Regions from separate parts of the Homo sapiens genome. Here region 1 is linked to region 2. Evidence: fine-mapped expression QTL. A gene starts in region 2. The other region holds a variant in brackets. All regions are shown on one strand. Distances are from middle to middle.

The links. PIP is the estimated chance that this variant, and not a neighbour inherited with it, causes the effect. A credible set is the group of variants that fine-mapping cannot tell apart.
Region 1: its variant is the best candidate, but not a certain one, in a credible set for the expression of ACADSB in skeletal muscle (GTEx, PIP 0.56).

The regions. Positions count from the first base shown.
Region 1 is chr10:123,034,535-123,039,855 of GRCh38, reverse strand. It overlaps ACADSB (acyl-CoA dehydrogenase short/branched chain), which reads right to left. Exons shown (of 11, transcript NM_001609.4): 3 at 2,009-2,109. Among named protein-coding and RNA genes, the nearest start is that of ACADSB, 28 kb to the right of the region's middle. The variant C/T (reference allele first, on the strand shown) is at 2,382.
Region 2 is chr10:123,005,686-123,011,066 of GRCh38, reverse strand. It overlaps ACADSB (acyl-CoA dehydrogenase short/branched chain), which reads right to left and starts at 2,061. Exons shown (of 11, transcript NM_001609.4): 1 at 1,996-2,061. The coding sequence starts at 2,037. It overlaps IKZF5 (IKAROS family zinc finger 5), which reads left to right and starts at 2,272. Exons shown (of 5, transcript NM_001372123.1): 1 at 2,272-2,373; 2 at 3,891-4,041. RefSeq lists enhancers at 2,156-2,485, 2,766-2,995.

The sequences.
Region 1 (5,321 bases), 29 kb before region 2:
TATCTTATATACTTAGATGACCTTTCTTGCTAAGAACTGTTGTTGCCTGCTTAAAGCAGGTAGGTGGGGTTTTGATTTTTCAACATGCCCTACCCACCTTATGCTGATTTCAATGTAATAAGGAAACAGAAGAAAATAACCTACTCCTCAATGGGATGTCTATAGTTTCATTTGGCAAAGTTTCTTCTAGTCAGGCTCTTTCACCTTGACTTTTTCAGCCAAGTTAATAATTGAATGACCATTCCTTTTACGCCACTTCATAAGTTCAGGATGGTTAGCAGAGAACATGTGGTGGTGTTTGCTAGAGCCACACTAGCCAAAGCACGAGGGCCTGGTAAACACGACCAGTGCCAGCCAAGCCTTTCCAACGACCCAGTTCCATCGTTACTGAAACTCACATAGTACTCTCAATTTCACAAAGAGAATGTGTGCATGTGTAATTCAAAACCCACAGCTGCTAACAGAAGGATAATTCTCTTAGTCTCTCTCTAGACATTCCTGGAGTCACACTATGCTGCAGTCAGGGCTGTGGCTGTTACATTTTGGGCTACAACAGGAAAAGGGAACCAGAAATGCGAGCGACTGAATGGTGAGAAAACCAGAAACGAGGAAGAACGGAAGGATCTGGGTTTGCCTGAGAACTGAGGAGGGCACTCCGGAAACCTCATTACAATGACTCGAACAGATATCAGAGACATTGCTTCTCTAAAAAAGTCACTAATCTCTCCCAACGTGGAAATAGTGTTTTTGCAAGCCATTATGCCAAAAACCCAGGACAATGGGAGTGAGGAGGCAGGTGAGGCTGCATCTGCACAGGAGTGGTTTGTGGAGATGAGTAGCAGGGTGCAGGCAATGCATCACTCTGCAGACAGCCCCGCTGCAGGAACGACCACCGCGGGGGAGATCTCACACTGTGAAACCGTGAGACTGCTCCCAGAAGCCTAGAGGGTCTGCAAGCAATAGAAATAAAACCTGGCTGAGAAATGGACTCACAGAGTCCATCTGTTCTCCACATCGGCCTCCTGTTTGACCACTATGGTTCCACATAAGATTCCAGTTTCCTAAGAGTTTGACTGCTAAAAGAAAGATGGAAGAATCACTACTACACACGGTATAAAAAAGCTGGTTGCTTTAAAACAGAAATAAATAAAACTATCTAGCTAAGTGGCAATGGTTATTTTTCAAACCAGATGGCAGACAAGATTTAGGCCAATGGCTCTGAATAGCAGCCACTTGTTCTGGGACATCTTTAGTATTAAAAATTAAAAAAAATATATTTTATACCTCTGCGGAAGTGAGAAATGATGCGTGCAGTGATTTTTAAAATGTTCTTCTAGAAGCCCCTATGCTAATAGCCCCTCCCCCTACTCACAGTGAGAGCGGTTTTACTTGTATCTATTTCATACGTTGTATTTCCATTAAAGAGCTATGTGACTTGAGAAGATGGGAATCTGTTGCCCGGTTTATGTGGAATTCATGTATCACCTCTGCTTCTAAGTTTATCACTTATATAGAGCTTCAGGTAGAATATAAACTATGCTATGAAGTTTCACTATCTAAAGTAGGGTTTCTTCATGGTGGCATTGGGTTGGATAATTCTTTGTTGTGGCAGTTGTCCTGTGCACTACAGGATGTTGAGTGGCATCCCTTGTCTCTATCCCACTAGATGCCAGTAGCACGCCTTAGCTGTGGCAACCAAAGATGTCCCTAGACGTTGCCCAATGTCCCCTGGAGGGCAAAACTGCCCCCATTTGAGAACCGCTGGTCTAAAGATACAAATAAATTACCATCTTACTTCCAAACTTTTCCTTAAAATATACAGTATTTCAAATTAAAAAATGTTAATTCCATTTTTAAGAACTTTTAAGTACATAAATATCAAGTAGGATTTCAACCAAAAAAAGAAAACAGATAATTTTGACTGGGAAATGCAGGGTTCATTATGCTATCATTACAGTCCCTGAATTTAATTATAGAAGCTTGAAAGTGGAAGAATTATGAAATGTACCCCTTGTTGAAATAATCCTTGTATTACTGATTTCTCCATTTTCGAATTTTCATCCATGGTTGAAACCAAAGGTGCAATTTGTTCCTGAGCAAATTTTTTAACTGTAGGAAAAAGAATTACTGATAAGTCTATGTTAAAGTGACAGTCACATTAATAGTTTGCTGACAAAATTTTACATTTTAACTAAGTTAAAATATACACAGGTACCCTTCTTATATTTTTAAAATAGAATTTATAAAGTTTTCTTTTTAACATAGAAAGGTGTAGTTTCCCATATCCCTTTGTAACTCTTGATGACCTCACAAAATAAATGATATGTGTAGATGGTGCAAAAACACAAGCAATAAAGAAAGCACAAAATGAAAAATGAAAG[C/T]CATTTCCACTCTACCCAAAGGTGACTAATTTTAAATTTATTATGTATTCTTTCTGAAAACTTTTCTTTGAAAATCATCTATACTTAACTGTACACATACATGTTCACACAAAGGAATCATGAGATACACACTGGTGTGTGCCTTGCTTCCCCTCAACTATATCTTGATGATCTTTCTATGTCAGCATATCCCATCTAACCTGGTCGTTTTCATAGCTGCTTGGTCATACAGAACAGGGTTTCCCCACCTTGGCACTATTGACATTTTGGGGCAGGTGAGTCTTTGTTGTGGGGCTGTCCTGTGCATTGCAGGATGTTGAGCAGCAGCCCGGCCACGGCCCCACTAGCTGCCAGGAGCGTCCCCTACTTCTAAGTTGTGGCAATCAAAAATGTCTCTAAATGTTGCTAAATGTCCGCTGGGGGCAAACTTGCCCCCACTGAAAACCGCTGTTTCATTTTTTAATGTTTTTAAGACTTAGATGCATTTATAAATCATTTTGATGAAAACACCTTCTTAAGTTTACTACCAATGTAATACCAAGTCGGTAGAGAAGGCAACCGGGTTCAGTGCATGTGGCTTGCTTCAGTATTCCTTCGTTTCTGCACACGCGACTCTCATTATGTAGAATCTCTTCCCTTCCCTTGTCCAGCTGGCCAACTGCACTTTGTCCTTCATGGTACAGCTCAAGCTCCACACTCTCTGGGAAGCCTTTCCTGACTGCTTCCTTAGCCCACTTCTGCCACGCCTAGCAAAGTCTAGGTGTTCTCTGCTTTGTTCCCCAAATACCTCCATGACATTTACCATGTTATTCTGAAACTATTTCCTTTATTCGACTGTCTTTGCCACTAGATTCTGAGTTCCTTAAAAGCAGTGATTTTTTTCTTGCCCATCTTTATTGCTTCTGTGCTTAGACTAGGTGGATACTAAAGAAATAAATAAGACTGAAGACAGAGAATCAAGATACTCTAAGCAAATTCTTTGATTTATGTAAACTAACCACTCACTCTTGTTTTTCCTTAGCTATCCCAAACTCACTTCCCTGAGACCATATCTAAAAGGCGAGGGAGCAAAGGAAAAGAAATTTACTAGCTGGGCGCAGTGGCTCATGCCTGTAATCCCAACACTTTGAGAGGCCGAGGTTGGTGGATCACCTGAGGTCAGGAGTTCGAGACCAGCCTGGCTAACATGGTGAAACCCTATGTCTACTAAAAGTACAAAATTAGCTGGGCGTGGTGGCACACGCCTGTAATCTCAGCTACTTGGGAGGCTGAGGCAGGAGAATTGCTTGAACCCAGGAGGCAGAGGTTGCAGTGAGCCGAGATAGTGCCATTGCATTCCAACATGGGCAAAAAGAGCAAAACTCCCTTTCAAAAAAAAAAGAAAGAAAAGAAATTTACTTATTGTGACAGAGTTCTAAGACAGTGCCAAGATTCCCAGCCGCTGGTGTATACATGTCCTCTCTCAGTTATTCAAACATGAATCTAAGTGCTGCTGTGAAGGGATTTTACAATTAAGCTTCCAAATCAGCTGAACTTAAAACATGGAGATTGGTGGGCCTGACCTAATCAGGTGAGCCCTTAAAAAAGGTGGGGCTCTTTCTGGTGAAACAGGTTTTAAGGATGAGAGAGACTCGATGCTGGGAGGGAGAGTTACTGGTTTTGAAGATGGAGGGAGCCACATGGCAAGGAATACAGAGGCCTCCAGGAGTTGGGGACAACCTCTGGCTGACAGCCAGCTGGGCAACAAGACCTCAGCCCTGCAACAGCAAAGAACTGCGTACTGACACAACCACGGGAGCTTGGAAGGACCCTGAGCTCTGGACGAAAACACAGCCCAACTGACACACTGATGTTGACCTTCTGAGACCCTGCGCCTGGACTTGCTCCAGCTGGACTTCTGGCCTACAGAACTGTGAGCCACTACACCGGTGCTGTTTTAACTTGTTAAGTTTGTAGTGATTCAATACCAAGCAATAGAAAACGAATACACTTAACATCCATATTCTCTAAGAACAACATTCTGATGTTCTGCTATGGATTTTTAAATATATCATAATTTTACACCTATATCTATACCCATAAATAAATGAATGCAAACTGCTTTAAGGTTTAGTGGTATACAACTTCTGCTTCATTTGGGCTCCGTGTTTCAACCACAGGTGTTTCATAGATAAAGGTAAAATTGAAATTCCACGTAAAGTATGAAAACCCACTATCTAGGCTGGGCATGGTGGCTCACGCCTGTAATCCCAGCACTTTGGGAGGCCAAGGAGGGCAGATCATGAGGTCAGGAGATCGAGACCATCCTGACTAACACGGTGAAACCACGTCTGTACTAAAAAACAAAATACAAAAAAACTAGCCAGGCGTGGTGGCACGTGCCTGTAGTCCCAGCTACTCAGGAGGCTGAGGCAGGAGAATTGCTTGAACCCAGGAGGCAAAGGTTGCTGTGAGCCGAGATTGCGCCACTGCACTCCAGCCTGGGTGTCAGAGTGAGACTCCATCTCAAAAAAAAAAAGAAAAAAAAGAAAGAAAGAAAGAAAAAGAAAACCCACTATCTAAAGAAAAGTGGAATATAAATGTACTTCTAACTCTGCAAGGCTATATAAGAAACTGGTAACAAGGTGGCAAGAACTGGGGAACTAGAGAACATGGGTGGGAGAGTCTTCACTTTTAACTACATAGCCTTTTATTCTGTTGTTTTAATATTGGATATGCATTGCTTTTCTTCATCACAAATTTAGATGAACATATCTTTCAATCCTGTCATATGTGACTTCATATTGTAGACCCAATTCATGACCAGAGGAATAATAAGGTGATATTTTTCCAGCTATTCAGGAGGCTGAAGCAGGATAGCTTGAGCCCAGAGGTGGGGCTGCAGTGAGCCATGATTGCACCACTATGCTCCAGAGATCCTGTCTGGGGAGAAAAAGGTGA
Region 2 (5,381 bases):
GGCTCCTAACAATCCAAAAGGATCAACCCCCAATTCCCTAAAGTGGCCTCAGTCCCCTTTTGTTGCAGTTTTCTGACCACTCCTTTCCCCTCCTAAACTCTAACCCAGCTTCCAAAGAGCCTATCACTTCCCCAATGGTCCTAGTCATTTCTATCTTCTGAATCTGCACGCAGACTGTAGCCCCTTAGGATTTGTTCCACACCTACATGACATGGGGTTAGTTGCACATAGTTCTAACCTTTCCTCTAAAAGATAAACTTCTTGGAGGTAGAGTATTTTATTCATTATTACATCTGGCATAGCACACAATGCTTCGTGCATGGCAGTAAGAGCTGATATTTACCGAGAGCTGACTACATTCCGAGCACTATTCTAAGTGCCTTACATGAACATATGAGCTCATTTAATTTTCACAACAATTTTGGAATACGCACAATTATTCTCTCCATTTACAGACCAGGAAACTGAGACCCAAAGCATAACCTGTCCAAGGTTATACCACTAGGAAGTGAGAGGGCCTGGGTTCAGATCCAAGCAGCCTAGCTACAGAACCTACGTTCTTAACCACTATGCTACAGTCGATGTTCAATCAATTTAGCTAATTTATGTAAAAGAGCTTCAAAAACTATAAAGGACTATAAGCCACAATAAACCAAAAGTTCAAACAAAATAGGTTTTTGATATCTCTAAGGACGGGGAGACAGTAGTATATGAAGGTTAAGTTTAGAATCAGACCAGAGTTCGAATACCACCAGCTCTATCCCTTTCTATCTGTGGGCAAGCTATTATTCTTTTTCAGCATCTGCAAGATTAAACTACTTGTTAAGATGGTTGTGAGAATTGAGATGACTCAGGTAGAACGAGAACGTGCCTACCACAGAGTATGCGGTCAATAAATTTTGGCTCTAAAACAGAGTCAAATTGTAAAACCAAAGAAATTTTCTTTGCTAAGTTATTAACCAACAATTATAAACAGTATTAAACAATAATCACTTACTGTTTTTTATTGCACTTCAGGCCTGTAAAACAGTCAAATAACATTAATTATCTCTAATAAGAAAAAGGGTCAGAGTTCTGCCTCTGGGCATAAGACTGAAGCAGCAGTTGGAAAGCCTAACTCATTAAAGCAAATGCAAAGGAAACATTAAAAGCACACGTAAGCAGTGGGAAAATTCCCAGTGAAGTGTACTGACAAATACAAGTGTATCCAAATGTGTATGTTCTGAAAAGCATGCTATATAATAGGTCCAAGGGGTGAAGAGCATAGGATGTTAACACAGGGGCTGTTAACAGTTTGTGTGGGTGCACAGATAAGAATTAAGCACAACAAGAGGCTGGTTTCAGCTTAAGTTCATGGAAGAGGGACCGGCACCGGCTCCGGCTCCCCTGGGCGGCGGTGAGTCTATCCACGGAAGATACCCAGGCTCCAGACATGAGATAAGGGGCAGAGGGAACTCTGTCCCTGGCCGGGAAGCCCGAACAACTCCGAAGTCCCTTACTACCTTTGAGCGGGGCCGCGGAAGGAAGGACAGGGAGACACCTGCTCAGAATGAGACTGGGCCTATATTTTAACTATCTTTTTTGGGGGAGGGGGTGTGAAATGTAATCACTCGGGAAAGGTGCGTTAGGGCATCAGGGAGGTGACATCTGTGCAAAATGCATCCAGAGATCCAGAGATCCAGACTCGGTGGCTCTCAGGACGCAACGGCCTGCAAAGGACATCTTGCGGACGCGACCCTCCGACTCCACTCAAGGTACTTGCTCCGCCAAAGCAGCTTCTAGACAGCCCCGACCCCCTTGCCACCAGCTGCCTCCACCAGAGGCCTGAAGGGGGTCGGGGTCATAGACTGCCCGCGGGTAAAGAGTCTGGGGACCCAGGACGTGGAGCGGGGCTCAGGCCGGCGCCCCGAGGCCCGTTAGAAGGCTCTGCCAGCTGCGATTCCAGGGGCCAAGGTCGCCCTGGGCCCCCAGGACGCCAGCCTCGAACGCACTCACCAGCCTGCTGCCGCGCAGCAACCGCACTGCCAGGCCCTCCATCCTCGCCGCAGGCCTCTCCGCTCTGCGCCTCTGGGTCTCTAGCCAGCCCCTGGGAGTTACCCGAGCAAGGCCCCGCCCACTCAGTACCCGCCCCGCACACACCCCCCCTTAATCCCTGCCCCCTGCTGCCTACGGAACCCCAAGAGAGACAAACAGGCCCCTCCTCGCTTTCGCCCTCCATCCTGCTCACGCGAGACTTGAGCAAGGCAGGGGGGCGGGAAGGGAGTCGGAGACACAACAAAGATGGCGGCGGCGACTGTGACGGTGACGAAGACGGCGGCGGCGGCGACGGCATTTAACAAGGCGGTGTGGTTTACTCCATGCAGTTGTCAGGAGGTAAGTAGCAGGCTGCCGGCTCGGACGGCGGCGACGCGGCAGGACAGGGCGGATAAGAAGGAGCGGCCGGAGACTGGAGCTGGGTTCGTGGCGGGCCGGCTGATCCGGACGGAGACTCAGTTCAGTGGAGGGTCGGGCGTGGTCGGTAGGCGGGCAGGTGATGGCCCGGGACCTCTTTAGCCGGAGGGCAGTGGACTGCGGCGCCTATGGCCGCGAGAACCCCGAGGGAGCGGGGTCTCCTGCTGTCATTGCCTTCGAGCAGGAGCTCGGAGGCTCCGGGGCGGGGACTGTTGCTTGGCTCTGACAGGTGGTTCTGCGGGAGGCGTCCCGAGGTTTGCGTCTTCACGGGGTCCCAGGGGCTGGGAGTCAGCCGGGCGCGGGTCTCCTAGGTGTTTCGAATCCTGGCGAGGATGTCGCTCCGAATCTTGGTGAGGCTGCTGCCCCGACGCCGGTCCCAGGCTGATTGTTGGGAGAAGGACGTTTAAAGCCTTCGTATTTTATCTAATGATCCTGCCCGGATCCGTCTCTACTGCATGGGCACCCTTATTTTAGGAACATGTGAGATTTGAGAAAGACATTGTAGCAAATAACTATTCAGGTTCATTCGGGGTTTAGATCTTTGGATAAACTGTGTGGAGCGCGAGTAGCCAAGCCTAGCATGCTCGATGACTGGATCTGAAGCTAAACAAGTTCTAGCAAACACTAACCACGTGGCCTGCTTAGAGTCCCCTTGATGTGCTGGTCAGAACCCGAAAGACGTGTGACAAGCGGAAGAAGACATAAAGGCGTCTTAAATTGTGTGATCTGAGGAAATTCAGTTTTGAAAGAACAGAATGTATTTAAAACAACTTTTTTTTAAACGTAGGAACTAACAATTTTAAAAATTCAATTTAATTTTGATTTATGTCGTGTTGTCACAACAGCTAAAGGTTATTATTATTGATGAGAGTTCGTTACAGTGAATTGAAATGTCTGGTGTTATTTTCCCCTAGCGGTCCAGGATGTTTCCCAGAAAACCGTAGCTGTTTTGTGTTATGATAGGATAAGAAGGATGGGATTCAGATGTGCCCTTATCGGGTGTGCATGTTTTTTTTGTTTTTGTATTTAAAGCCCTTTCCCATTTCCCTACTTAGGACTATGCGTTGTTTTTATGCAACTACAGCTGTTCAGCAGTACTAAGCTTGACCGTTTTGGAAGTGTGCTGTGACTAAATGAAGTTAATCTTAATTTCTTTAAACTGAAGTTTAACTTAAATTTAGACATTAAAAATCTTGCCAAAAACTAATCCACCAGTGAGAAAACGGTAGTCACACCAGTTATTCTTTGGTGATCCTATGGAGCTTTTGCTGAAGTGAAGCTACTGCTTTGTTCTTTGATTAATCTGTCAGTTCGTTTTCTTTTCAGCTAATGTAATGATAAGATTGGCATAAGTTACTAGCTCATTCAACCTGTAGATGCTAATTAAGTTTTTATCTTAAAGGTTTTGATTTGTGGTGTGCTGTTTGTTTTTTATGCAGACCTCTGTATGGCTTTTCAATTTTAGTTGAAATTCTCTCTCCATGGCCTTTTGGAGTCCCTTGCTGTATCTCCGAAGTAAATTTCAATTACTCTACATTTCATCAATGTTGGAGTGGCAAGAAAAAGGAGGAACAGATTTGGGGTGAAAAGGTTAGATTGTATAATTTCTCTTCTGGATTTCTTTCAACATGGTTTTACTTATGTTTTATTTTTATGTTTTGATTTCTGATTTCTCAGAGCCTCATAATTTCTTTTTTTGCCTTCAAGAGTTTTTGACAGTTCTGAAATCAGGAATTGTGTTCCAATTATTTTGGAAGGCCCATGTTACTCCATAGAAACCAATCCTTATTTGTCAACGTTGTCTGTTTATATGTGTTCTATAGCAGAGTAAATCTCAGTGACCATAATTATTAGGCTATGGAGGGTAAACACATCTATTGAACTGTAATCACTTTATGTGTATAGGCCTGCCTTACCCATAAATTATTATGTAAGTAAATTAGTTGCTAATATTGTATTCTTCCTTATGGTTACCTATGAGAAGTAAGACTTCTCATGAATGCTAGGTGAACGAAACATATCCTGCTGTTCCCTAATCATGTTCTCAAAATTCTCCCACAGTTTATAAAAAAGATAGAAGGAAGAAGGAAGATAGGTTAGAGAGCTTCTTCTCTGGTTGTTTCATAGTTGTGAATGCCTTCTAATTTGCATTTCAGTGCCTGTGTTTTAAATTATTAGCTACTGGTTAAGAGGCTGGGGGGGGTGCACATATATACACACATGTAATTGTGTGTGTGTGCTTGTATATATGCTTGCATTGATCAACAGCTTCCCATTTATGAGACTGAAGAAGAAAGATCAGACGACTTCATACAAAATAAATCCTTTATCAGAAACCAAGGAAGATCGGAAATTAGCCTAAATTACCTACTTGAGGTAGAGGTTTTCCTGTTCTTTGGGATATCAAAGCTTAATTCTCTTATACCTCTTTTCCCCCTACCGGCTTGCATAGCCTCTGGTTGTTTTCTGAAAGCATTGATTTTGAGCCTTGAATAATAAATTGGGGGACGCTACTGGCATGACAATACTTTAGGTATACCCTAGCCAGTTTCTATATAGATATCCACCTACACCCCATGGAATTCCATACTATATTCAACTTAACTTTAATCAGAATAATCACAGGAAGGATTTGGGAATTTTGCTATATCATAAGGAACAATCATCATAAAGTATGGGGATATTGTTCTCTTTGGTTGATATGATTAGATATCTTAGTTCAGGTTGCTGTAACGAATTACCATAGACTGAGTGGTTTAAACAAACATTTATTTCTCACAGTTCTGGAGGCTGGGAAATCTTAATATGAAGGTGCCAGCAGATCAGGTATCTGGGGAGGGCTTGCTTTCTGATTGTATCCTCTCATGGCAAAGAGCAGAGAGGAAGCAAGATCTCTGGATCTCTTCACAAGGCACTAATCCCATTTAGAG